2 separate regions of the Homo sapiens genome follow, and region 2 is linked to region 1. The links come from fine-mapping of genetic effects on gene expression. Tissue or cell type: whole blood. Region 1 holds a variant in brackets; the other region holds the start of a gene. All regions are shown on one strand. Distances are between the middles of the regions.

Evidence for each region. PIP is the estimated chance that this variant, and not a neighbour inherited with it, causes the effect.
Region 2: UQCRC2 starts here. The variant in region 1 is fine-mapped to the expression of UQCRC2 in whole blood (TOPMed, PIP above 0.99).

Annotation. Positions count from the first base shown.
Region 1 is chr16:21,974,419-21,985,381 of GRCh38, reverse strand. UQCRC2 (ubiquinol-cytochrome c reductase core protein 2) reads right to left here. Exons shown (of 14, transcript NM_003366.4): 12 at 9,139-9,215; 13 at 4,682-4,835; 14 at 1,722-2,294. The coding sequence ends at 2,211. It overlaps PDZD9 (PDZ domain containing 9), which reads left to right. Exons shown (of 4, transcript NM_001363519.1): 4 at 722-1,517. The coding sequence ends at 1,115. It also overlaps the pseudogene LOC100420644. Among named protein-coding and RNA genes, the nearest start is that of PDZD9, 21 kb to the left of the region's middle. The variant G/A (reference allele first, on the strand shown) is at 6,051.
Region 2 is chr16:21,946,531-21,957,493 of GRCh38, reverse strand. It overlaps UQCRC2 (ubiquinol-cytochrome c reductase core protein 2), which reads right to left and starts at 4,133. Exons shown (of 14, transcript NM_003366.4): 1 at 4,038-4,133; 2 at 176-259; 3 at 1-77. The coding sequence starts at 4,070. RefSeq lists enhancers at 3,791-3,840, 3,851-4,020, 3,535-4,252, 4,341-4,800.

The sequences.
Region 1 (10,963 bases):
GATTGCTTGAGGCCAGGAGTTTGAGACAGGCATGGGCAACATAGGGAGATCCTGTTTTAAAAATAAATAAATAAATAAAAATAAATAAAAATTAGCCAGGTGCGGTGGCATACAGCATACACACCTGTAGTCTCAACTACTTTGGAAGCAGAGGCCAGAGGGTCACTTGAGCCCAGGAATTCAAGGTTGCAGTGAGCTATGATTGTACCACTGCACTCCAGCAAGGGTGACAGAGCAAGACCCTCTCTAAAAAAAAGACTCTAAGACTTACTAATGACTAGGATGTTGAAGATCCTTAAGGCCCACTATTTCCTGACTTCCTGACTCCTCTGGAAATCAGTAATGTTGTGTTAATGCCACGTGAGCCACAAGAATAGAGTTCTCAGGAGATGGCCAGGTTGAATCCGTCACTTTAGCTGCAGTGAAATTAACCTACCCTTTAACACCTCCTAATATTCTGGTCAGTAGTCTAGTATAAGTCTGTGCAAAACTTTTTAAGGTATGGTGAAGTAATTTAAGGCAGAATTTGATTTCCATTTAGAAATGGAAAAAGATTTCAAGACGATTTAAAAAAGAGAAACATTTCAATGACACAGAAAGGTAATGCTAAAGCTAAATTGTATCTTTTATGAGTCAAAGCAAGTTATAAGGCATCTTGTTAGGGGACCATAAATGTTTAGACATGAAGAATCTATTTTATTCACTATTCTTTTCATTTCAGCACACCAAAGAAAATTGAGCTGGCAAAAGATGAATCTTTCACAAGCAGTGATGATAATGAAAATGTAGATTTAGATAAAAGACTTCAATATTATAGATATCCGTGGTCAACTGTGCATCACCCTGCAAGGAGACCAATATCCATCTCCAGAGACTGGCATGGATATAAGAAGAAGAACCATACTATTAGTGTAGGAAAAGACATTAATTGTGACGTGATGATTCACAGAGACGACAAGAAAGAAGTGAGGGCCCCTTCTCCATACTGGATAATGGTGAAGCAAGACAATGAAAGCTCTTCCTCCTCTACCTCCTCTACCTCAGATGCATTTTGGCTGGAAGATTGTGCCCAAGTTGAAGAGGGTAAAGCCCAACTGGTATCAAAGGTTGGTTAGCAAATCTGTGGTCATATGAGCATTTATCTTGCAGACACCCAAGTTTTGTGCCTCACCAGGCACAAGTTTGCTGTACTTATCAAGGACTGTCTGTAGACTCACCAATTCTCTTCTCTTATGACTGCGTTATAAAGCCTTTAGAGATGTTCTTCAACAGGATTATCTAAAGACTTCCTTGGGTTCTTGCAGGCCTCACAAATCTTATTTTCAGAATAAGACCCTCCTTTTTGAGAAGAATTTCTTTCTTTTAGAAAATGCCGTAGAGAAATCCAATATCAGAATGTCTGAACATAGTAGAGAATGTCACTTTATGTAAACACTACATTTTTCTTTAAATATTTAGTTTCTCTCTTTTTTTTGGTAAACTTCAAGTACTATAATTAAAATAACTAAGAGACATAATTCTTTGGCTAGTTATTCACATTAGAATTCTTTTTTTTTCCCCTTTTTAGCCCTTCTTTTACTGTAAATGTTGAATTGAGAGTTAATTATTTGGAAGAGACAGGATAGTAACAGATAAGGGAGAGACAGGAGATGAGAGAAAAACAAAACTCTGTCAATGAAGATAAATCAGACATAAAAAAATGAATGAATGGGAATATAGGATATGATTGATAGGAAATGTATGTTTTTTGGAAATAATTTTATTGCAAAAAAGGCAAAACAGGGGTAAAAACCAGACCATTTAGCTGTTGACACCCAAAATGACAAATTTTGAACTTGCTTTCATCTTAAACGCCACCAATAGTAATCTGGCACTATTTACCCCGATAGCCACTTAGCCTTAATTTTAATAGTTTCTGATGCTTCTATACTCAATAATTATATTCCTGTCTCCTTTAAAGCATCTAAAACAAAGATATCAGCACATAATAAATACTTGTTGATTAACTCATTGAGAAAAACGTAAGAAAAACACTTAAACAGAATGTTTTATTGACTTTAGGTCAGCTGGGAATAATTACCTGCATTTATGCCTTATTTTACCTCACTGGAAAAAAGACAAATGATATATTAGAGACTTCTGACTTTCATGTGTTTGCTGCTCTGGGCTGAGAGAACGTTCAGCTCTCTCCTGTAATGTGTGCATCAGTATTACAACTCATCAACAAAAGGTGTATGTCCCAAATTTCCACTTGCTGCCATTGACTTCTGGCCAGAAACAAACTTCTTTGCCGCCTTTAAAGAAACAAACAAAAGACAAAATTAACAAAAATAAAAATATATATCATCAAGCAGGCGAACTTATTTTGTCATTTCAAGAATTTATGGATAGGACATTCTTTTTTTTTTTTTTTTTTTTGAGGTGGAGTCTCGCTCTGTCACCCAGTGTGGAGTGCAGTGCTGCGATCTTGGCTCACTGCAGCCTCCGCCTCCCAGGTTCAAGCAATTCTCTGCCTCACCCTCCCAAGGAGCTGGGATTACAGGCATGTATCACTATGCCCAGCTAATTTTTGTATTTTTAGTAGAGACGGGATTTCGCCATGTTGGCCAGGCTGGTCTCAAACTCCTAGCCTCAAGTGATCCACTCACCTTAACCTCCCAAAGTGCTGGGATTACAGGCGTGAGCCACCAACCTGGCCTTCGATAGGACATTCTAAGCCAGCAATTACTATAATAGCTGTTGTGAAAATTAACTAGGAGATGGCTGGTGCTTTAATTTGGGACAGTGTGGGAGGAAAAGCTTAGCTGTTTCTCTGAAAGTCCCATTGTATGTGTAATGAACCAAGCAAGAGCAACACTGGTAAGAGGGTAGCTGTTCAAAGAGAGATAAGGAAAACAACACTGACACTGTCAAATAGAGTAGTGTGGCTTCAGGCAGGGATATACTTTCCTGTTTCGGTATTACAATGGCAAATAGTCTGGGTCAATAAAAATACATTGATTGTTAACTTAAAAGTAAAACTTGATACCCTAGAGGATTCTTTATGCCACTACTTCCAAGTTCAAAGGCTGGTTAAGTGTAGTATCATGAGTCAGGTGTAGGTGGAGCAGCAGCCCCCATATTCTGTCAGGCCAGCTTATCTTATTACTATGAAGGAGAGGTGGTGGTGGAAGCAGTCGGGTTGGGACGCACATAATGATAGGATATAAGATGAAGACAGCCATTTAAAAGAGTACCAAATGGGCTGGGCGCGTTGATTCACACCTGTAATCCCAGCACTTTGGAAGGCTGAGGCGGGTGGATCACGAGGTCAGGAGATCGAGACCATCCTGGCTAACATGGTAAAACCCCGTCTCTACTAAAAATACAAAAAATTAGCCGGCCGTGGTGGTGGGCACCTGTAGTCCCAGTTACTAGGAAGGCTGAGGCAGGAAAATGGCGTGAACCCGGGAGGCGGAGGTTGTACTGAGCCGAGATCGCGCCACTGCACTCCAGCCTGGGCAACAGAGCAAGACTCCGTCTCAAAAAAAAAAAAAAGAAGAGTATGAAATGACGATTGGGGCGAAGTGAAATCAAGTCAGGGTTACTATCTTAAAATAGCCTTGTCTCTTTTTTATTTGAGACAGGGTCTCACTCTGTTGCCCAGCCTGGAGTACAGTGGCATGATCTCGGCTCGCTGCAACCTCTGCCTCCCAGGCTCAAGCCACCTTCCCACCTCAGCCCCATGAGCTCCTGAGTAGCTGGGACTACAGGCGCATGCCACCAAGCCTAGCTAATTTTTGTACTTTTTTGTAGAGATGGGGTTTTGCTACATTGCCCAGTCTGGTATTGAACTCCTGGGCTCAAGCAATCTGCCCACCTCAGCCTTCCAAAGTGCTGGGATTACAGGAATGAGCCACTGCACCCAGCTTAGTTTTTTATTTTTTCTTATCCCCACTGTCCCTATACAAGGTAGACCTGTTGGTGAGAAGATGGCCGAGACATCTACAGTAGAAAGCAAGTTGGCAAGTTTAATGTAGAAAATGGGGAAAACCCACTTACTTTGGATTAATTCTGTAGGTCATGTGCTTGTTAGGCACAGCAGGGAACACAAAGAAGTACATGACATAGTCCTTGCCCTCAAAACAGCTCAATATTGTAGGGAACAATAATATATGTGAAAAAAAAATTAGCAAGAACAAGAGAATGTCCTAGGCTGAGAAGAGTAAAGAAAATCTTAAGATGCTAGATGGTGAAATATTGCTAGGACTGAAGAGGAAAAATAGCAAACTTCACTATTTAGGTTGGATCATATGAAACTGCTAATATTTGACTCTTCTTTACTTCTAGTCATCTAACATAAGCCCATTTTATAAACTACCATTAGTTTAACCTAACGTTTGATACGTTAGGTGTATTAAATGCACTTTTGACTGCCATCTCAGTGGATGGCAGCCCTCTTACTGACATCACAGTTTAACCTAATGGTAGTTTATTTGAAGGAGGAAGATACATATACTCGAGCTGACAGGGAAGCTTGTTGCGGATCTTATGGGAATGAGCCCTCCTGCCTCCACATTAAGTAGATGAGCACCAAACATAAGAATAATACACTGCCCAAGGACGCTTATGCATCCTTCTGAAATTGGATCATTAAGGTTAAGTTCTCTGTTGTTAAATCGTTAAGTTTTCATTTACTTACATTTATGATATCAGCATTAGCCACTGAATCAATCTGCTGAAGGACTGTGGATGGTGGCATGTAAGAACCAGCAACTAGAGCCTGGGACCCGACTTCTTCCAGGAAACACTCAGAAGACTCCACTGACATTAGGTATCCAGCTTTCAGCTTGTTCCTGTCCAATAAAAGGCAGAAGTCAGTTTTAGAGAGCAAGGCAATTATTTTTTTTTTCTGAGTGGTGGCGGGGGGCTGTGAACATCAAAGCTTTATTTAATGGATAGAGTAACAGCGTGTCTCCCTCTTCCTGAATTCCCCAAGAAGAATGCCACTCCCTTCTCTGGAACATACTAAAACAGTAAGTCTGAAGGGAAGAAGTCTCTTCAGGGTTGCCAAAGTGTCCAATTGAGGGCCCACTTTGGCCTCCATTTGTGGGTCCATATGCTGCTACAGATTTGAGTGAGACAGCTGGAGAGCTCCCTAATGCTTCCCAAGGCCTCTGGATCCGGTTGTGCAATCTGGATCCTCTGCATGTCACTGGCCAGTCGCAGCATGCTCTTTCTCCTGCCCACTGGCACAGTGAGGAAGATCTCTCTGCTGTCAGTGAGAAGGCTGTCATCCACTGAGATGGCAGTCAAAAGTGCATTTAATACACCTAACGTATCGAACATCATAGCTTGGCCCAGGTTATCTCATATGTGCTCAGAACACTTACAATAGCCTGCAGCTGGGCAAAAGTCTTCTAACATAAGCCCATTTTGTAAGGAAGCATTGATTATCTCATGTACTGCATATCACTAGCCTAGGAAAAGATCGAAATTCAAGGTATAGTCATGTACTACATAATGATGTTTTTGGTCAATGATGGACCACATATATGATGGTGGTCCCGTTAAGATTATTAGGGAGCTGAAAGATTCCTATTACTTACTGACAACATAATGTTGTAGTGCAATTTTAAAAAAATAAATTTAGCGTAGCCTATGTTTACAGTGTTTAGTATCTACAGCAGTGCACAGTAATGTCCCAGCCCTTCCCATTTACTCACCACTCACTCACTGACTCACTCGAAAGCAGGAGCTATGCCATAAAAATGGCATACCATTTTTTTATCTTTTGTGCTGTATTTTTACTGTACCTTTCCTATGTTTAGATGCACAAATACTTACCTTTGTGTTATAACTGCCTACAGTATTCAGTACTATAGTACATGCTATACAGGTTTGTAGCCTAAGAGCAATAGACTATACCATAGAGCCCATGTGTGTAGTAGGCTATACCATCTAGATTTGTCTGAACACTGAGGTTCACACAGTGATGAAACCACCTAACACCACATTTCTCAGAATGTATCCCCATCGTTATGTGACCCATGACTGGAAGCTGAAATTGC[G/A]ATGGTTTTCCTCCATAGTCAAGTTGAAAAATTATAATTGATCCATGGCAAGTTGGGGACAGTGTATATTGTAAACCTACCTTTTGGCTGCTACAGTGTGAAGACCAGGGATCTTGAAGAGCCTTCTGTCAAACCAGGGTGTCAGGCCTGTACTTGGTGTCACCACAGACAACTCCACCTGGCCCACAGCTGGGGTCACAGTGTTATAAAGGTCACAGTCTTGACCTTTTCCTTTTGCCTTTTCCTTGTATGAAGTGGGTTCTCTTCTTGGATGGAGGATACCGTTCAATGCTTGTAGTTTGAAGATTCTCATGTTTATTTTCTTCTTATGCTATCGTTTCACTTGTATTACCTGTGAGTTTTGGCAGGTTTCGGGGGTGTCTGAAGAGCTTCTGCTGTCTGTTTATTTCTGTGATATCCACTTCAGCTGTTGCTGCCTCTTTTAGGGCCTGTTTGTTTTCACCAAGGGTGAAGTAGTCAAGCCAGTTCCTCTTACACAGTGAAACAGGGCAATTTTAAGGTATGTGCCCCGAAACTCAACATATTTTTGGTAAACAGGCAAACTAACAACTTACAGTGCTAATGGCCTCCATTCTATTTCTTCAGTTCACCAAGTACGTGAACCGTTTACGTTACTATTTGGAAAGCTGTCAGTACGAAATTATACTGAAAACTCCACAGATTGCTTTTTGATTTGGGACTAGAACTTAGATCTAGGTAAAACTATTTTAATGTAAGGTTTTGATTAGTGAAGCAACTCCTGCCTCTTGCTGAGATTTGTCTGTGAGCATAGGGTATGATGGAAAAGGCAGGTGGGGAAGGGCAGTACAGGTCTTGTAAGCAACGGCAGCTTAAATATGGGCACAAAAGCATCCACTTGAAATAAAACAAAATCCAATTCACAATTCTCCCAGAAACTTATTACTTATAGACATGGTGTTTGATAAGACAGTCGAGTTATTTGAACCTCAAACGTTTATCATCCTTTAACACTCTACAGAAAGACTTCCATTTAAACATAATTACAATTTAATGCTGCAGTTTTACCACGTTGTCAGCTTAATTAAAAAATGATTTTACCTGCAATAAACTACCAAGAGGTTATTAGTGTGTCCTTTCGGCAATGACACCTCACTTTCTCTCTTTCACTACAGGAAGAACTTACAAGAAAAAGTATCAACTCCATCAAAATGGCAGAAAACATACTTTGACATTAATATTCAAAATTCTACTTTCTGCTTATTACCATACCTTGTAAGAACTGTGTTACACTTATTAAGAAAATACGTTTTCTTAAATAAATTAGATTTGAAAAACTTAGGTTTTTCTTAAGTAAATCCAGTGTTTCAATGTATTCTCATCATGTTTTGTTTCTGGTACAATCAAGCAGCCCTGCATCCTATCGATTCTTGGTTCTATGTATACAATATTTAATAAATTGTGTTGTACTTATACAAGAGATGCAACTTTGTAGTGTGCTCAGCATAACAAAACTAACAATACTAATGGGAACAGAAATGACCAAAAGGTTGTTCCATCCTGGGTTGTAATTCTGCTTCCCCTGTGGGCAATACTAAATGATCATAACGACCACTGGAGTTGCAAGATTCACATTTTGAATTGTTCTAAGTAGATGGAGTCAAACTTAAATGTCTTAAGCGGCTGTATGAAAATGCAGGTTGATTTCCAACTTTGTCCCAAGTCTGTCTCTTTTAGAGAAACCCTCGAACTACTAATGAATTAGGAGTGTTGATAGCACTTTCAATCTGGACAGTGGGGATTTATAAATTGCCAAATAGCAGACAAGTATTTTAGTCTTTCTTATAAAACAAAACAAAATCAGATCTTTTTTGGGTATAAATTAGTTATGAAGAAAGAAACTATTGTAGAATAGGTACTCTTATATACTGGTGGTATGATTATAAACTGGTACAATCTCTTTAGATTTGTGACTTAGAAATACATTTTTTTTTTTTAAGAGACAGGGTCTTGCTCTGTTGCCCAGGCTAGTGTGCAATGGCGTGATCTTAGTTCACTGCAGCCTCAAACTCGTGGGCTCAAGCAATCCCCCCTCTTCAGCCTCCTGAGTAGCTGAGGCTACAGGCACACACTACCACACCTGGCTAGTTTTAAATATCTTTTTGTAAAGACAGTGTCTTGCCACATTACCCAGGCTGGTTGAACTCCTGGCCTCAAGTGATCCTCCTGCCCCAGCCTCCCAAAGTCCTGGGATTACAGGTATGAGCAACTGCGCCTAGTCAAATGTATTATTTAAACATACACACATACACACACTCTAACATGGAGTCTTTCGTTATGTTTATAACTCTTAACTTAGTTGGGAATCTACACCAAGAAAGTAATACGAAACACAAAAATATTTTAAGCCCAAAGATATCTTTATAACTGCAGAAAATGCACAAGTGTATTTTGACACACCAATGAATATTGTTTAAATTTTTAGTAATTTGAATCAATGGAAACAGAATCATTGCTAGGGAAATCAGAGATCATTTTTGTCTTTTATTTGTAATTTTCAAACTTCTATAATAAGGATGCTATTTAAATAAGATAAAAAAGTATACAGATGGTCCCTAACTTAACTTATGATGGTTTGACTTATGTTTGTTTGGCTGGATGACTGGGTTATTAGGGTATTAAATGCATTTTCGATATGCGCATTTCTCAGGACGTAACCCCAGTGTAAGTCAAGCAGCATCTATATATACAATATTAACAATTATGTTTAAAAATGCATGATCAATAAACTAAGAAAAATGTTAACAATTATTCTCTAATTTTGGTGGAGACGAGGTCTTGCTATGTTGCCCAAGCTGGTCTCAAACTCCTGGTCTCAAATGAACCACCTGCCTTGGCCTCCCAAAGTGCTGGGATTAGTGAGCCACTGTGCCTGGCCAAAATGTTAACAATTATATCTTTAGGTGGTAGGATATGGGTATGTTTCCCTTTTTACGCTTTTCTGTACTTCTCAGTCCTTATGAGCATAGATTGTAATATTGTTATAATCTGAAAAGAATACAACTTTCAAATAACAAAAACATAAAACACAGTTAATACTGAGACTTACTTGGCAGCTTGGACATCTGTGTTGGAAAGGTTTCCTTGAGCTATTGTTTTTACTTGATTATAGGCAGCCTTGATAACCTAGGACAGATAAGAAAAGTTGGTCATCTGTGGTCAGTACCAGAGTCTCCTGCAGCACTGACACACTTCTTTACTGAGGCAAAAACACAGATGGAAGGTTAGTTCCAGACAAACAGCACAGTGTCCATGCGGAATGCTGTCATCACTATGGGTTCCTTATTCTTCCTATGTTCATAAAGCAGCTGTTTATACACAATCCTCCTGCCCCAGCCTCCCAAGAAGCTGGGACTACAGGTGCATGCTACCAGGCCTGGCTAATTTTTTAGCTTTTTTTGTAGAGATGTGTGGGCTCAAGTGATCCTCCCACCTTAACCTCCCAAAGTGTTGGGATTATAGGTGTGAGCCACCACACCCGGCCAAACACATGGATTTCTAATCACCCATAAAGAATAAGCACCTTTAAAACTTCCCCAGACTCTTGCAGTGTCATGCCATTAATACTGCTATCTCTTACTATTCACTAAGAAGAGAGTAGTAATCCATACACAGCCAATTTGTAAGGCTTGTCCATACTTTGTAAGCCAGGGTCAAGAAGGAATCTGAATCCTTGTATGGTATTTAAAAAAAGAAAGAAAGAATAAAGTTCCGGGGATGTGGGTACTTGGTAAATATTTGTTGAATAAATAAATAAATCTGACCATGATTTTCTCCATCCCAGTGCTGGCTGGGTCTGCTACTTATTTTTCCCTCTGATCACCTAAATTCTAGGACCTCTGTTTCCCCTTCATTTTAGCTGCCCATTTTCAGAGCCACACCCCAGACCTGATCATAGCCTAAATTTGCATACCTCTGAAGCCCTCAATTCTAAGACCCCGACCTCAGTCTTTAATCTCACTATCCTTATTCTTCCACTTTATCAAGATCTCTAGTTCCTTGACTTGTCCAGTCTTTCAATTTATCAGGCCCCCTCTGGCTTCACTTCTCTATTGAGCCTAGATCCCTGAATCATCCTTTTAATCACTCTTGCCAATGCTCCCAACTCCCTTGCTATCTCCTCATACTTCTCACCTGCCCACTTTGCAGGATTCCAACCTGGGATTAACCCTAATACCTACCTCCTCCATTTCTCTATTAGGCTTCTGAATGCAACTGAAGAAAAATTACATGACAGTGCTGACTGACTGTACTATGAATTTGTGGTCGCTGATTTCAAGGATACATCTACACTACAGCGAATACCCACTTTTTGTGTACCTCACTATTTGTCTGTCCCAAACTTCACTACTTTCTTTAAACTTTCCTCTCACGTCTGTCAAAACATGACTTAGCCTCCTGTCTCACTGAGGAGGTACTTCCCCATCTTCCCAATATCTTCCAATATTAGCCTGTCTGTAAGGCTAAAAGGTCCACTTGTGTGCTGGATCCCAAGTATTCCTTTCTCAGACTTGAGCCATTTATAATTTTCTATCTCCGATATCTGCTCCGATCTTTTTGCTCAGTATGTCTCTTTCAACCTAATCTCTCAGTGTAAACTCTCCTAAAACAACTTGCTCCTTGAATGTCTAAGCTCCACTAGCCCACACCAACCTCTCATTTCTTACTTGTCATTCATTCCTTAATCACTACACATTTTACCCAATTTCCACTACTCTAGTCAAAACTGTTAAGATCACCCATGATGTCCTAGCTTGCTGAAACTACCAGACTTCTCAGTGGTAATGAATGTTATTTCACTGTGGGTCAAAATGGTGTTAAACATACTCTCTTTCCTATCCTTCAAATATATCAGCTTCTCTTTTTCTTTCTGT
Region 2 (10,963 bases), 28 kb after region 1:
ATGAACAAACCAATTCTTGATACAGGAGAATAGTTTTCCAAAGAAGCAATCACCAAGCCATTTGGTAACTTGGTAAACTGTATTTAAAATAAAGTAGAGATATAATGAATGTCTTCGTATTACCAAGGAGAGTAAGGCATGTATAGCTTCCAGCGAGCAAGTTAGTGGGACTAACCTCAAGGTCCTGAGGTTGTGGCGGTGCTCCTGCAGGCGCAGCTGTGGCTTTAACTTTGGGGGCAACTTTGAGGGAATAAAATCTCTAAACATAAAAAACACAGGTTACACGTATTTCTCACAAGAACAGTGCTTTATATAAAAGCATGGTATCTTAGGGTACCCAAGCGACAGAGGGTGTTCGGGGGTGGAAGGAGCAATAACCACCTCCATGGGAGGATTTACCTGCATAACATTTTTTTTTTTTTTTTGAGACAGAGTGTCTCTCTGTCGCTCAGGCTGGAGTGCAGTGGCGCAATCTCAGCTCACTGCAACCTCTACCTCCTGGGTTCAAGCCATTCTCCTGCCTTAGCCTCCCAAATAGCTGGAATTACAGGTGCGTGCCACCATGTCCAGCTAGTTTTTGTTTTGTATTTTTTAGTAGAGATGGGGTTTCACTGTGTTGGCCAAGCTGGTCTTGAACTCCTGATCTTAAGTGATCTGCCCACCTTGGTCTCCCAAAGTGTTGGAATTACAGGCGTGAGCCACTGCACCCCGCCTAGCTGCATAACTTATTATGGACTTACTAACCCACCAGTTTACCCAAGCCATTCTTAAACCTCTATTTATTAGTGATTTATAGAGTTCTTGATGCTTATTTTTTAAATGATGTAAAGAATCACTGTATTTTCTTATCTTTCAGTTACCTTATAAAAGTTTCATGGTTCTGTGTAGTTCTAAAGCTTTGGCATTTTTTGAAAAAGTGTCAGATCACCCCATCCACAACCTTTTTTGTTGAGTTGGAGTCGTGCTCTGTGTCCCACGCTGGAGTGCAACAGTGCGATCTCGGGTCATTGCAATGTCTGCCTCCTGGATTCAAGCGATTCTCCTGTCTCAGCCTCCCAAGTAGCTGGGATTACAGGTACATGCTGCCACGCCTGGCTAATTTTTTGTATTTTAGTAGAGATGGCGTTTCACCCCATAGCTCAGGCTGGTCTCAAACTCCTGAGCTCAGGCAATCCACCCGCCTCGGCCTCACAAAGTGCTAGAATTACAGGTGGGAGCCACCACACCTGGCCTGTGTCCACAACCTTTTATAGGTTTCAGCTTCTTGCTTCTTTTATCTGCCCAATGAATGTCATCCGTTCAGTCTAATTTCCAATTGAAATGGTTTCATCTCCTTAATCATCTTAGTAACCTTTAAAAAAGACAAACTAGCCGGGTGCGGTGGCTCACGCCTGTAATCCCAGCACTTTGGGAGGCCAAGGTGGGCGGATCACCTGAGGTCAGGAGCTCGAGACTAGCCTGACAAACATGGAGAAACCCCATCTCTAATAAAAACACAAAATAAGCGGGGCGTGGTGATGCATGCCTGTAATCCCAGCTACTGGGGAGGCTGAGGCAGGAGAATCACTTGAATCCGGGAGGCGGAGGTTGCAGTGAGCCGAGATTGTGCCATTGCAGTCTAGCCTGGGCAACAAGAGCAAAACTCCGTCTCAAGAAAAAAAAAAGAAAAAGACAAAGTATATACCAACTTCCTCCAAGCCCTCAATATTTTCCATTGTATCTTCACTCTTGTGTGCTGTATTAAGACCACACAACCAAAGGTCTTAGTTTTTTTGACTAAATAAAACATTTATGACATGTATGTCATCCTGAGATTAATAATGGCTTCATCCACATCAGATTCTCAATATATAAAATGCAGTTACTGGTAGGGTGAAAGGGTCCCATTAAATATTAGATAATGGACCCAAAATGCATTCATTTTATTCAGTTTGTTTTGGCAAATGTTATACAATGCCATACAAATCATTCTGATTATGACTAAAGTTCATGAGGTTATTAGAGGAGATGATGAGTGAATAAAATTTGGTGCTCCCAAGACCCAATGAACACCTCCTCACTGGAGTTTCCCGGACATCCCTGCACAGTCTGCAATGCCTCCACTCTGTGCTGTCCAGAAGGCTGTTTGTTGTACATCATTAGTGCTGTACTAGGTTGGCTGCTGGTTATCACTTGCTTTTAGTACTGCTTTTCAGTTATGAATTACAATTAGCTTTACTTTATCGTCATCAATTTAGTTTGCTGGGTATGGTATAGTTAACCTTCTTTGTAATTTTGGCCTATAATTTTCCAAAAAGTAAACTTTTAAGATATATGGGCATAGCAATTCAAATATGAATAATCTATAATTCCGTTACCAAGTGAGATTTTAGGTGTTTTCCAACCAAATGTGCCCAAATAGTAACTCTTTGTTGGTAATTTTTTTTTTTTTTTTTTTTTGAGACGGAGTCTCGCTCTGTCGTCTAGGCTGGAGTGCAGCGGTGCGATCTCGGCTCACTGCAACCTCCGCCTCCTGGGTTCAAGAGATTCTCCTGCCTCAGCCTCCTGAGTAGCTGGGATTAGAGGCGCCCACCACCACCACGCCCGGCTATTTTTTTTTTTTTTGTATTTTTAGTAGAGACGGGGTTTCACCATGATGGCCAGACTGGTTTCGAACTCCTCATCTCAAGTGATCCGCCTGCCTCTGACTCCCAAAGTGCTAGGATTACAGGTGTGAGCCATCGCGCTCCGCCGGTAATGTGCTTCTTAATCGTCCCATTCAAATCAGCAAATTATCCTAGTAACTGTCATGCAATCTTCTAAATTATTTTGTTCTAATAACAAGATATATCTAAGTTTATTCTCCTATATAAAGTGCTAAAATTAGACACATAAATAATTGCTTTCAAGTTTACTGCAATTTGTTTACTTTGGGCCTCTCCAACTGTTTTCTCTGAGCTTTTTCTGTTGCAAAATAGAATGGAGAAGGAAATGTTGGGGTCTTTTGCCAATCTAACCGTGCTTCCCTCCAAGGGTAATCACTGGTGTGTCTAGGTATACCTGGAAGGTTAATGCAATTACAGCCTAAATCGATATAGCCCACAGCACATTTATGTAAACATAAAGCATAAGAACATTCCATGCCCAGGTCTGGTCTTCTGCATCTCCATCTAGGGGGGTTTCTCAACACAGGTACTACTACTGGCACTTGGGGCTAGATAATTCTTTGCTGTAAGGCGAAGTTTAGCAGCATCCCTGGCCTCTCCATGCCAATAGCACCCTCCTTACAAGTTGTTGCAACTAAATATGTCTCCAAACATCGCCACCGGTTCCCTGGGGGCATTCTGTCCCTCGCTATGATTTTTTAAGTGTTCCCCCTTACCCCTCTTAATAACCACTGTCCCACAGTGATATAACCCTGATGTGTGAGTTTTCCCCAAGTGACAGCTATGTTTAATTTAGGCTTGAAGGGGAAACTTAATTAAGGAGCTTTTGAGGACAAACAGAGACGTCTTGGAGGAACCGTCTAACATACGATCAAGAAAAGCAACGTTAGACTACTAAGACACCATAGTATTTAACAATGAAGTTCCAGGTACTGTAATAAGTGTTCTATCTGCATTAGCTCCTTTCTTATACTTTTATTCGCTGGGGAAACTGACGCTCCGTGATAAACCAAGGAGCAGAGGCTGCAGCGGATAAAGTGAAGGTGGGGGGCTAAGTGCGCCGTCCTCCCGCTCCCCCTGGGTTTCACGGTCTCTTTCTCCAGCACTTGAGTACCGGAGTGACCTTCAGAAGTCTCTCCAAGGACTCGCTTCAACTCCGCTCTCACGTCCTGCCCCTCTCTTCAGGTTTCCCGGTGTTAGGTCTCTTGTGCTCACAGCATGAGCTGGGCCTCCAAAGCCTGACCCAGTCTGCAGCCCACTTGGCCCGCAGGGTTCAGCTGAAGGGCAGACCGAATCCCAAGGCCCAGACCCCAGACCAGACACCTCCGCCTCGTATCACCTTGTCGACACACTGCTCCCCAGCCCTTTCCCAAACCCGCCACCTGAGCTCACCGAGAAAGAGCCGGCTCTGGTTAGTAGCTTCATGATTCAAGATTGTTCTGACACACGGTCACTGCCGGATTAAAGGAAAGCAAGATGGTGGCGGAGGCCGGGAGTTTCCCAGCGTTCCCCGCTAACACTTTCCCACGTCCCCTTCGTGAGGTACTCTCTATACTGCCGCGCTCTACTGCTCTCTTTATAAGGTTGGACCAGTCCAATTCCTCCAAGACTCAGAATAGGGAGACGCACAATTTCCCAAGTAAATATATGCAGAGAATAATGTACGTCACTGCTTTTTGCGTTCTTCTCCTAGCCTGAATATCCAGTATGCACCCCTTTTCTAAGTACGTCTGCAGCAGCCTGTCACAACTCCCCCCGCTATCTTGGGCTCTTCCGCTCAGCATTGTCCAATGGGACGCGCCTCTCTTGGGACTCCGCATGCGCCCTCCGGGATGACACCTGCACTGGAGGCCCTGGGTTTCCGCGTTCCTGGACGTTGGAGGCTTCAGGAGATTCCTGCCACTCCACCTTTCTGCAGAGGTATTGGGTATCGAAGCCCGGCGTAGTTGCCTCTCGCTGGGTGAAGTCCTTACTGGATCTTTAGCTCCGTGAAACAGGGGCCTCGTTCAACGTATTCGCCGCTGTGTCCCCCAGAGCAGGCCCGGGACACACCGGGAGGGTCAGCAACCTCGGGGAATCATCACAAGGCTTTTGGTCTCGTGGAATTTACGTCCTAGGCTGGGGCTACATAGAATATAAAAACTTAGCTATAGTTTTTGTGTTAGGAAAATAGAAATGTTTTGGATAGTAGGTGTGTTATGTGAGCCGAAACCGGCAGTTGGAGAAAGTCAGTCACGTGACGACTTGGGGCGGGGGCGTTCACTCCGGTCCTCAGCGAGTGTTAACCCAGAAAGTGCCTTGAGCTAGGCACTATGCCAACGCGAGAGGCGTGGTCCCTGCCCTTTAGGGACTTTAGAGTTTCGTACCTTGCTACGTTGCTTGGTTGGGAAACCGACAGTATCAGCATCAATATCATTTAGGAGTTGATTAGAAATGTATGAACTCCAGGTCCCATATTGGATCCGAATCGGTGTTTTTACAAGATCCTGGGATGACTTCGTATGCACAATAGTTTCAGAAAGGCTGGTGGTGTAGACGTTACAAGGCATAGGCAAATGTACTTTCTTTTTGCCTTGTGTCTGAATTGCTCCAGGCCTACAACGGACTTGGGCTCTCTAATTAAGATCTGGGCATTAAGAACCTGGCACCAACCCAATTTCTGTGCCTGCTGGGGACGCCCTCAACCCAATTCATACCACACAGTTTCCCCACATGTGGTAGATTTAACACTAGTGGTGCGTGAGATGATTTTAAGTTGGTACATAGATGAACACTTCCATTTTTTCCTTTTAAAAATTTGTATAAATTTAAGGGGCGCAAGTACAGTTATGTTATATGGATATATTGCAGTAATGGTGAAGTCTGGGCTTTTAGTGTACCCATCACCCGAATAATGTACATGGTACCCATTAAGTACTTTCTCATCGTTCACCTCTCTCCCACCCCTCCACCTTTCGGAGTCTCCATTGTCTGTCATTCCACACTCTATGTCCATGTGTACACCTTATTTAGCACTGTTCCATTTTAATAATATATTTATTTTGATTATGGCAAGCAATGCTAGTAGTGAATTTCCTCTTTAAGTACATTTATAAAATAATAAAAGTTGGTGTAAAAACGTTAAGTAACTTGATGATACGGAGATACAGCAAAAATCATGAATGTGTTATACAGGTACCATTGAGTGAAATCTGGGAAGCAGTGCTCTGATCAAGCCACCTGCCTGCTTAAAATTCTTCAACGACAGCCACGTTTTTCAGGATAAAATTCAAATTCATTAACATGGCATACAAAGCTGTCTCCAGTACTTCAAAACCCCAATTCCCAAGTTAGCTAGCTGCACCCCTGAGTCCAATCATTGTAACTTCATCATTCAACAGTTCAGGTCAGGTAGGAGGAACACAAAAGTCTCCACACTCAAGTGCACACACACACACACACACACACACACCCACACCTGCTTATAATGTCCTCTCATTCTTAGGTTATGACCCAATATCAGAAAGGGGCAAAAATAAATTCTGTTCAAAATGTGGCAGGATTTGAAACATAATTCATGATATCAGCTACATAAATCATAAAATCCCAAGTTTGTCAATTGCAAAATGTCCTATTAAGCATTAAGCTACAAATTAGGAGTGCCATCTTGTGGACACATCCACCACTTCCACATCATGTCACCTCCTAGCCAACTCCGTGGCTGTTCTCACTGTGGAGGTCTCTGCCACAACTCCAGCATTTTATTGCAGAAGAAAACCCAGTCCTTGAACTGGTTTCTGCGTAGAACACACTGAAAGCCCTGGGAGAGGAAACCAGCAGACAGGAAAAGAGTAGACATGGAAGAGCAGATGAGTTCATTGCTGGAAAGCTCGAATTGTTAGTTTCGTTAATGTGGGGTCCAATTTGACTCTATGGAGCCTAACTACCTAGCCTGAGCGCTCGCGGTGAGTATGGGGTGGGAGAATGTAAAGAGAAAGCAGGCAACAGTAGGAGTAAAACACACCAGAGGAAGGTGATGTGGGTTTATACTTGGGAACAACATTACCTTGCCATCTTAGGGCCAGAGGCATTAATCATGGCTTCCCCAATGCATAATTTCGATGTTGGCATTTCCTTCCCCATTCCTTTCAGAATCCTACCCTGTCAGGTATTATCTCTGATGAAATATTCCCTGGGCCAGGCACAGTGGCTCATGCCTGTAATCCCAGCACTATGGGAGGCCAAGGTGGGTGGATCACCTGAGGTCAGGAGTTCAAGACCAGCCTGGCCAACGTGGCAAAACCCTGTCTCTACTGAAAAAAAAATACAAAAATTAGCCGGGCATGGTGGCAGTTGACTGAAATCTTAGATACTCGGGAGGCTGAGGCAGGGAGAATTGCTTGAACCTGGGAGGCGGAAGTTGCAGTGAGCCGAGATCACTGCCATTGTACTCCAGCCTAGGCGACACAGCGAGACTCTGTCTCGGGGGGGAAAAAAAAGTTCATATCAATTTCTAATATTCTATAATTATTGTTTTTGGTCACATATACTTTTTCCATGTATTGAGGTGAACAGATTGGTCTTATTCTGTGTTAAGTTATATTGATTGATTCAAATTATAAATAAACCTTTCATTCCTGTTATAAACCCAACTTGGTCTGGATGTTTTATTCTTTTAATATATTGCTAGACCTAATTTGCTACTTATTTGTTTAGGATTTGTGCATTTATGTTCCAGAGTGATACTGGCTTTAACTTTCACTTTCATTCCCCCCATTCATGCATTTTTCTGTCATAGATAAAATGAGTTAGGAAGTGTGAAAGGAAAAAAAATCTCAGGGCCTCCAAATCACTAAGCCAAAGGGAAAATTCAAGCTGGGAATGATGTCAGACAAACCTGCCTCCCGTTTTATTCCTAAATAAGATAGCTATAAGGATAAAAAGCTACATAACTTACCTTACAATTTGCCCACAGGGCAATTCCATGTGGATCTGAGGATCTTTACCCTAAAACAGTTTTGTTGAATTTCACCCTGGCAATGTAAATTGATAGCTGTCTTCCTTCCTTCCTTTCCTTTTCTTCCTTTCCTTTCTCTCTCTCTCTCTGTCTCTCTTTCTCTGTTTCTCTCTCTCCCTCCCTTCCTCCCTCCCTCCTCCCTCTTTTTTTTTTTTTTTTTTTTTTTTTTGGAGAGTTTCACTCTTGTTGCCCAGGCTGGAGTGGAATGGCATGATCTGAGCTCACTACAACCTCCACCTCCTGGTTTCAAGCAGATTTTCCCACCTCAGCCTCCTGAGTAGCTGAGATTACAGGCATGTGCCATGATGCCTGGCTAATTTTGCATTTTTAGTAGAGACAGGGTTTCACTATGTTGGCCAGGCTGGTCTCGAACTCCTGACCTCAGGTGATGCACCCACCTCGGCCTCCCAAAGTGCTGGGATTACAGGTGTGAGCCACCGCACCAGGCCTGATAGCTTATTTTCACAGGTGCAGGACAAAGGACAGAACTCAAAGTCCATCTTAAACAAATGTGTATCTGATGGCTTCCTCTGCCCTATTGTTTACATTGTATTATGTAAAAAAAATGAAGATTCTCTGAGCCAGACAATGACATAAGTGAGTATTCCTCTGCCCATCCTCTCACATGTAAATTGTATATTCAGTGAAAGGCTGATCAAAGACTCAAGGGGATGCAACCCTTTGTCTCTTGTATACCCACACATTTTTAAATTTTTTCTTTTTTTTTTTTTTTTTTTGAGACGGTCTTGATCTGTCACTCACGCTTGAGTGCTTCCAGTACTTCCTGGGCTCAAGTAGTCCTCCCACTTCAGTCTCCTGAGTAGCTGGGACCACAGGCATATGCCACCACATCTGGCTAATTTTTGTATTTTTGATAGAGATGGGGTTTTGCCATGTTGCTCAGGCTGGTCTCAAACTCCTGACCTCAGGCAGTCCACTGGACTGGCCTCCCAAAGAGCTGGAATTAAGATTTCAAATTTTCTTCCTTTTCACCCATATCAATCCTTTCTCCTTAAATATTGAAGCCCTTGAAATCATCTTTGGAGAAAGGCATAGACATACCTCTCAGGCGCTTATCCTTAACCTTGGCAATGGAAACTTTCCACATTGATTGAGACCTGTCTCAGATACTTTTGGTTCACAGAAGTAAACGTCTTTTCCCAGCTTTCGTATATTTTGCGTGCTCCCTTTGATTCTGTCAGGCTTTTATTTTATTCTTTATTAGGGTGGGTCTATTTAGGTTTTTGATCTTATTCTAGGACATGATCTTTACTTCTAAGGCATGGCTTTTCTGGAGTTATAACTGTAAGGGGTGCTCAGTAAGGTATCTCTACTGTGGCTCTCAGTAAGAATTCCGACATTTTCTGCACTATGTAAACTCTGGGTCTACCTTTGTTACAGGTAGTTAGACAGGTATGAGCGGGACAGGAGAGGGCTCTCCCCCCATCCACCAGGAATGTCGGGTGATGATTTGGCAGTTATCACATTGCCTCTCTAAGTGATAAATTGGGCCAGGCGCGGTGGCTCAGACCTGCAATCCCAACACTTTGGGAGGCCAAGGCGGGCGGATCACCTGAGGTCGGGAGTTTGAGACCAGCCTGAACAACATGGAGAAACCCCATCTCTACTAAAGATACAAAATTAGCCAGGGATGGTGGCGGGTGCCTGTAATCCCAGCTACTCGGGAGGCTAAGGCAGGAGAATCACTTGAACCCAGGAGGCGGAGGTTTGGGTGAGCCGAGATCGCGCCACTGCACTCCAGCCTGGGCAACAAGAGCGAAATTCTGCCTCAAAAAAAAAAAAAAAAAGATAAATTGGAGAGGCCATTTCCTGATAGTCCACACCCGTTGCACTAAATTAACAGTGTTAATTGAATGCAGACACCAGGGAGAAGCAACTTCCTGGGCATGTGCATTAAGAGACAAAATGGCGGAGTATGACTTTCCAGGGTTACTCCACCAGAATAGGGAAGAAAGTCTCAGATGGGCATGGGTACAACTTCTTAAACACGCTGCGCATGCTCACCTCCAACGGGTGAGGGGGGTACCAGGCATGCGGGCAGCCCACCCTAAGGGAAGAATCATGAGAAAGGGGCCAGCCTATAAAGATTACTGTTAAACAGAGCGCTTGACCTCAGTGCCTGGTTGGGTCTCTTCCAAGCATACTTTCCTTTCCTTTTTTATCCTGTTCTAAAGCCTTTTAAATAAACTTCCACTCCTGCTCTGAAACTTGCCTTGGTCTCTTTTTCTGCCTTATGCCCCTCTGTTGATTTCTTTCTTCTGAGGAGGCAAGAATTGAGGTAGCTGCAGATGTACACAGATTCACCGCCAGTAACTCAGATATCGTCCACCGGTAACACATTCAGTTCTCAGTCTAGCAGGTGCCATTCTCTGATAGGCCTCACAGCATCTCTCCCTTTGCACATGGCACAGGCCAGCTCATGACTCACAGCAAACCCCATTCAAATTTCTGGGCCCCCGCTTCGTCTTTATCATCACCCTGCTCTTCAAATTCTAGCTGCTTTAGCAATCCTAAACTCCCTCTTAATTGATCCCTTTTGAGGTTCAGAAGCTACAGTTCAAAAAAACCTAAGATTTATTGTTCCATTTCTGCAAAAGGACGACGTGAAGCTACATTGATCTGCCTTACTACTCGTATCTGAAACCTAGTAGAACATTAGACAGTTTCGTAATTAGGTAATTGTGGGAAAAGGAGCATAGGTGGAGCTATGGGCTTCATTTCAAACAGCAGGGACAAAAGAAAGCACCTCAACATTAGCAGCATCAACAAAAAGTGCAGCAGCATAATGACTCACCTGTAGGTGTTGATAAGCTCATCAGCATGAGGCTCCAGTTCAAGTGAATTCAACCATTTCTTCACATACAGTTGAATCTGGGGCTTAGGGACTCCCCATAATCTGGCATACATGATCATTATTTCCTGAGCAGTCATATATTCTAGCAAGACATCAAATTCAGGACAATAACCAATTCTTGACCTTAACCTAATTACAAGAATTGCATTAAGTAAAGACCCAAGTCATCTATCCCACTAGACAACCATGGATAAGATGGCAAACCTGCAGTCTTCCAGGCCATACTTTTAAGAGTCCTACCAAGATATTTTTTTTCTAAAGGGCTACAAAATTATAGCTGTCAGATCTATTGTAGGACATTGGAATAGTAGGCTCCATAATTCAGTTTTAATGATCTTGGGGATAAAGAAGTTAGAAATGAAATTCCACAGCCTACTCATTTTGGAGGAGTACTAGATTATGACATGGTCTTCTCATTAATCAAGAACTCCAGGGGGAATGGCCGCC